Regions from separate parts of the Homo sapiens genome. Here region 1 is reported to be linked to region 2. The links are microRNA targets in miRTarBase. Many come from high-throughput screens and were not tested one by one. Region 2 holds a microRNA gene; the other region holds the end of a gene's coding sequence.

Region 1 (3,407 bases), not on the chromosome of region 2:
GTCTTCCTTCTCTTCATCGGTAGAATGGGGATAGTCATTTTGCCCTTAATCAATTCTAAGAGGCACATCTGTTCACATGTTAAGTCTTCTGTAGTTGGGGTATGTCATATTTAGTTAGCAGAGCTTTTTCTTTCCTAGCAGTTATAAAATACTGGGGCATCTTATGAGTGGTGGCATTTTAAATTTGATGAAGCCCTCAGATGACCCCTCCCTCATAGGGCTGGTGTGAGGGTTCAGTGAGTTAGTGTGTTGGGCGATTAGAATGCAGCCAGTGAAGGCCTATGATGGTACCCAGTGCTGGTAGTAGTAGTATTGACTCCATCATCACTCCAACTCAGATCTGGGACTCCCAGCCCTCTCCTCACCCTGGCCCCCACCCCTGAGGACCCTTTGCCCTGGTTCTACCCTGCCTCTGGGCCTTGACCTGTGCCCTCTTCTTCCACAGCTGTGATTGTGGGCGGGGTGGTGGGCGCCCTCTTTGCTGCCTTCTTGGTCACACTGCTCATCTATCGTATGAAGAAAAAGGATGAGGGCAGCTACACGCTGGAGGAACCCAAGCAGGCGAGCGTCACATACCAGAAGCCTGACAAGCAGGAGGAGTTCTATGCCTAGTGGAGCCACAGTGCCTCCCTGCAGCCTCAACACCACCCTGCTGTCCAGTCCCCAGCCTGGCCCCACCAGCCCAAGCCTGGGACTGGGCCTGGAACCTGGCCCCAGTTCTTCTCTGCCCTCTCTCCCAAGGTCTGCCCAGGCTGCCAGCCTCACACAGATCTTCCCCGAGGAAGAGGGGCTGCTGCCATCTGCCCCAGACTGTGCCCTTACGAGCTCATCTCTTGTTCCCCTCATCCCTGCCACCAGTCTGGGGCTTCAGGACCTCATGTCAGATGGATGGGAGGAAGAAAGCTCCTGATTGGCTGGTGGTGGAAGAAAGGGTGGGGCTTGAGATGAGCCTGAGCCCTGACTTGGCACCCACAGTGCTCACTGAGATCTCCTTTTTGGGGCAGAGAGGCACTCAGGCTGGTTTCCAGGACAAACATTTGGTAAACACAGCCCTTGAAATCATCTAGACACTGCAACCTCTTGCTCGTATCCCAGGGCCTCTCTCTAGCTGGGTGAGAGGGTGTCCCTTGTCACCAGCCTGTTTTGTCCTGGTCTCTCTGGGGTTGTTGAATCTCTCCTCTTGCCTGCCAAGTACACATGTACCCAGACTTCATTTCTTTCTGCATCTTCCCCCAAGAAACAGCTTCCTGAGGGTGCTGGGGCAGCCACTGGTGAGGAGGGGCTGCTCTGATGTCCCTCCTATGAGGGGACTCTGCACAGACACCATTGCCCACACTATCACCATATTTTCACTCAGTCACACACAAGACAAAAGCATGCAATGACAAAACCATACGCAATCCTGACCGCCCAGCCAATCAAGACATATCACAGAACACACGCGTCCTTCCAAGAATGTTTATCCTCATGCATCACTTACACACCCCCAGACACGTACTGCAATGCAAGTCACTAGTCATGGTCACATGACAGTGACAGTGTGGCCTCCTCCTACCCCAAATACACCCACACTCTGGCACCACACACATTGTCTCCAGCTTTCAGGCTTACTGGGGAGGGTGGAATCGAGCCAGAACAATCAGCCCATATTGGGTCCCCCTAAGTTGCCCCGTCATACTCAGTCCCATGCCATGGTGCCCACACCAACCATGCAGCCGCCAACCCCAGCCAGTGTCAGACACAATCCCATGTGGATGCACAGTCTCACTCCACATGACCTGCTCTCAATGCTGGAGGGAAACAGGCAGGCCCTTGCCTTTCTCGGAAAAAGTGTGGGGCCACAGCCCTTTTAGGGCATTGCATGCAGGTGGGCCTGGCTTCACCCCTACCTGCTTCCTCCCCACCGCAGCTGGCAGAGGGGGAGGTTTGGGGCCAGACCCCCACTAGCTGGGAGCCTGGGGGCTCCTCTAAGGCTGAGGAAGGAAATTTGGCCCCAGGTTGTTGGGGGGTCTTGGGTCTCCCAGGACGGAAGGCCCAGGGCAGGGAGGGGGCATGTGGTTGGGCTCCTTTATCTCCCTGTGTCCCCTTCCTGCTTTGAGCTAGGGGGCTGACTCTGCCTCCCAGGACACAAGTCTCCAAAGTGCCTGTGAGGGCGGGCCCTCCGCACCCTCTGCCCTCTGCCTGGCAGGCCAACCTCAGCCCACCTGCCCAGAGGCCCTCCCTGTGGACACCCCCTCACCTATTTGGCCAAACAATTCTGGCTGCAGCTTCAGGGGCCATGGCTGGAAGCAGCCCCTGCAGATCCCTCAGGCCCCGAGGTCAGGGTTTGAGGGATGAGACCAGGTGATAGTGGGGGAGGGGTTACTTCCTTTGTTACCTAGCAAGTAGGGCTATTTCCATCGGTATTTTAAATGTGGGGTCACAGATCTTTTGGGGAGGGTGTGCTTGGCAGGGGGCCTCTTGGAGCCAAAGGGATGTGGTGTGAGTTGCGATTGGCTGGCACTCACACCCCCACCCCTCACCCACATCCCAGATTCAAGTCAGGAAGGCAGGTTTTATTTCAGGGCCCTTTTCAAGATGCCCTGGCAGCAGATTTCTGCAGGATGAGGGGTAGCGGTGTGTAGGCAGTGAGGGGGAGGTTCCAGGGGCTGTCCCACAGCCTGTCTTTTCCAGGCTGGGCTCCATCTTCCAGTCCCAAAACCCTCCTTCACAGGGCCCAGAGGCTTGTGAGGAAGCCAGGTGGACCCAGCCTTAGAAGAGTGGGCATGGGGGGCCCCTGATATCTGGAGGGGGCGGGTTGGCCTCAGTCATCTTTGGAGCAGAAGGGCTGGGTCCTGGGGCCACAGACCACAAGGCTCAGCCTCCCTACCCTGCTCCCTGGGGTGCTGCTGTCTTGGAGAGCACAGCTCTGGTGAGACGGCCTGGGCAGGCCGAGGCTGAGAAACCAGGGAGGATAGAGGAGAAAAGGGCTTGGGCCCCCAGCCCCAGAAGATGCTGGACCCCAGGTGGGAGACCCAACAGTGGGTGCAGTTTCTCAGTAGGGCTGGAGCCAATGGTGGGGGTGGCCCCGGCAGGCCTGGCTCCTCACATCCCAGGGGTTGGCTTCTGATTTGGGGCTTGGGCTCCAGGCACTGGCTTCTCTTCTCTGTGTCCTTAGCATTTGAGAGAAGAGGCCAGGGGCCTTGTTCATGGATCCCTGGACCCAAGGCAGATGTCCAGGCTTTATCCTCCTGAGGATGAGGAGTCTGACCAGCCCAAATCTGCCCTGGCCGGCCTGACCGGGGCAAGGCAGTCCAAGAGAGTTCAGTGAGGACCAGCTAGGCTCTCCCAGGTGCAATGTGGGTGCAGGGCCCTCATGTCCCCCTACCCCTGCCTGTGATGGAGTGTTCTGAGGGGCTTTGGCATTT
Region 2 (3,407 bases):
CCACTGTACTCTAGCCTGGGTGACAGAGCAAGACTCCATCTCAAAAAAAATGAAAAAAAAAAAAAAAAAAAGACCAGATCAACTAAGTAAATAACAAGATAATAATCAGTAGGTTCAGTAGGTAGTGGAATGGAAGGAGTAAAAACTCATTTTTCTTTCCAGACTCCGTAATCGAAAAAGCTCATTTTACATACCAGCAGTGATCAACGAGACAGAAAATGGTCTTGGTATCTTGGGATGTTCTTATATTTCTTTTTGTTCCTGAGTTTTCTGAGCATTTTCCTGGAACAAGATAGTTTAAAGTTTTTTTTTTTTTTACACTTTTCCATTCAGTAACATAGCATGAGCATGGCCTCAGAAAGGTGAAACACCAGAGTCATACCAAAATATGCCTAATGGAAATAGCATTAGGACAGGAGAGAGAAAACCAGAAAAAAATAGTGTTGAAAGAAATAATGCTAAAAACTTCAAATTTCATAAAAAACATAAATGTACACATCAAAAAAGTGAGATAAGCATGAAGATATCCAGACTTAAAGACATTGTATTCAATCTGTTAATGGAGAGAGAGAGAGAGAAAGAGAATGTGTAAAAGAAAGAATACCTTTATAGCTGCAAGAGAAAGGGAGCATATTTCATACAAGTGATTCTTACAAGATTTAACACTGACTTCTTTTGAGAAACCATGGAAGCTGGAATCAGTTGTAGAACATATTCAAAATGCTGAAAGAAAAACACAGTTAACCATGAATCTCACATCTAAGTCTAAAAGTTGTTAGATACAGCATTAAAAGCATAATGCATACATTGAAAAACTGTTAAGTCGTACTTTATCAAAATTGAAAACATTTGCTCTGCACAAAATACTGTTGAAAATGAAAAAAACAAAACAGATTGAGAGATAATATATGTAAATCATAATTCTGGCCAAGAAATTGTATGCAGTATACCTATATATCTCTATCTATATGTATATAGTAAACCTCAAAGATAAGTGAACAACTCGGTAAAGGTGAGAAAAATCCCAAAGGCACTTCACCAAGGAAGATACATGAATGGTAAGTAAGTACATGTACAGGTGCTCAACATTTTCCGTCAGTAAGGTGATGCAAATTAAAACCACAACTGACAAGGGAACTATACACATATTAAAATTGCTAATAAAAACAAAACAAAGGCTTTTCAATACAAAATGCTGATAAGAAGTTGGGTAATTGGATCACTAATACATTGCTTAATGCAGCACAAAATGGTAAAACCATTCTGGAAATTATTTTTTAATTAATTTTAAATGTAAACTTACACTTGCCATGTGACCTTCAAATCCTACTAGTAGCAGTTTACACAAGGAAAATGAAACTTGTGTTCATATATACATCTGTATGCAAATATACAAAGTAGCTTTATTTTTAGCCATGAATAACTGGAATAAAACCTAGATGTCCACCTGTGACTTCTACCCTACTTGATTAAAAAAAAAAAAAAAACAGATTATTCTTGCTCTAATTCTGACTCTCATTCTCTCTCCTTTACCCATTTTCTGCTTCCATACACCCTCTCTCATCACTGAATGAGAAAGAAACAACATAAAGGAAGTAAATGAAAACCTAGAGATAAAAAATGTTTTTAAGTAAATGCAAAAAAATCAAACAATAAAAAATTCTCAGCATTATTCACAATTCCTGATATATGACTTACTAATAATAGATTAAAATATATTTACAAAAGAACGAATATGTACTTTATTAGCACATGAAGAAAGAGGACATTTTATATCTGAGATAGAATATATTTTGATTTTCAGAAGGTTAAGTGTTTAAGAAGCAGGAGGGAATTTTGGAAAGCTTAAGAAGACTTGAAAATGAGAAAGGAAGCTAACAGTTAACAGATTTGGATGTTGGAGTAGGCAATAGTTTCTGCAAAAAGAATAATACTCTTAAGGCAGAAAGAAACTGTAAAATGGCAAGATAAACCTTGGTTCAATCAGGCAACATCATAGAAATGGAAATCAATCTCAGAAGAACTCAATGGGAGGCTTGTTGCAAGGACCTTAAATTCCTAGATCACGTGTCTGGTGGTCAGGCACCTGAGAGAGTTTTCTGAGGTAGTCCAGCATGGAAGTGGAGGGTTTGTGAGGGTAAAATACCTGCACTGTAAGGAAAGCATCCCTCTGCATGCAACTAAATGCCTCCAACACACACACAGTGTCATCATGTATGTTGCACGTGTCATGCAGTACTCTACCCACAGACGTACCAATCATTTTTAATTATACATGATTGCCACTGTCTGCAGTAGGGTACCACACACAGCATGTCTGAGGATGGCAGCCTTGCCTTAATACCCACCCATTCACCTTTAAAACAACCATTCAATATTTACAAGCTGTGCGTGGCCATTGGAATTTGGACGAAGGACTTCTGCAGAATTCAATCCACTATCTTTCCTTATATTTCCCGCTTTGAGTCCTGTCCACTCCCACGTTGCATCTTTCACATGACAGTTTTCAGAACTGAGAAATATTAAACATTTCTGTTAGGTTCTGTTACTCACAGAAGAAATATCCTTGCATGTCTTATCCTGTTCCTTATAATAGATTAAAATGTATTTACAAAAGAACGAATATGTACTTTATTAGCACATGAAGAAAGAGGACTTTGTATATCTGAGATAGAAAATATTTTGATTTTCAGAAAAGTTAAGTGTTTAAGAAGCAGGAGAGAATTTTGGAAGGCTTAAGAAGACTTGAAAATGAGAAAGGAAGCTAACCATTAATAGATTTGGATGTTGGAGCAGGAAACAGTTTCTGCAAAATGAATAATACTCTTAAGGCGTAAAGAAACTGTATAATGGCACAATAAACCTTGATTCAATCAGGCAGCATCATAGAAATGGAAATCAATCTCAGAAAAACTCAATGGGAGGCTTGTTGCAAGGACCTTAAATTCCTAGACCATGTGTCTGATTAGGCACCTAAGAGAGTTTTTTGAGGTAGTCCAGCATGGAAGTGGAGGGTTTGTGAGGGTAAAATACCTGCACTATAGGGAAAGCATCCCTCTGCATGCAACTAAATGCCTCCAACACACACACAGTGTCATCATGTATGTTGCACGTGTCATGCAGTACTCTACCCACAGACGTACCAATCATTTTTAATTATACATGATTGCCACGTCTGCAGTAGGGTACCACACACAGCATGTCTGAGGATGGCAGCCTTGCCTTAATACCCACCCATTCACCTTTGAAACAACCATTCAATATTTACAACCTGTGAGTGACCATTGGAATTTGGACAAAGGACTTCTGTAGAATCCAATCCACTATCTTTCCTTATGTTTCCTGCTTTGAGTGCTGTCCACTCCCATGTTGCAGCTTTCACATGACAGTTTTCAGAACTGAGAAAT

Evidence for each region. The annotated mature microRNA hsa-miR-509-3p reads UGAUUGGUACGUCUGUGGGUAG and lies in region 2 at 2,241-2,262, opposite strand. An mRNA with a match to its seed (bases 2 to 7 or 8) in the 3' UTR can be bound and repressed. Matches are read on the target gene's strand: a 7mer-m8 pairs with bases 2 to 8, a 7mer-A1 pairs with bases 2 to 7 and ends in A, and an 8mer does both.
Region 1: miRTarBase lists SDC3 as a target of hsa-miR-509-3p. Seed matches in the 3' UTR shown: 7mer-A1 at 1,415-1,421.

What each region holds. Positions count from the first base shown.
Region 1 is chr1:30,870,416-30,873,822 of GRCh38, reverse strand. SDC3 (syndecan 3) reads left to right here. Exons shown (of 5, transcript NM_014654.4): 5 at 446-3,407. The coding sequence ends at 612. Among named protein-coding and RNA genes, the nearest start is that of SDC3, 37 kb to the left of the region's middle. RefSeq lists an enhancer at 2,416-3,287.
Region 2 is chrX:147,256,535-147,259,941 of GRCh38, forward strand. It overlaps MIR509-2 (microRNA 509-2), which reads right to left and starts at 2,316; the gene lies at 2,226-2,316. All of the region lies in intron 2 of LOC105373347 (periphilin-1), which reads left to right. It overlaps MIR509-3 (microRNA 509-3), which reads right to left and starts at 3,192; the gene lies at 3,118-3,192.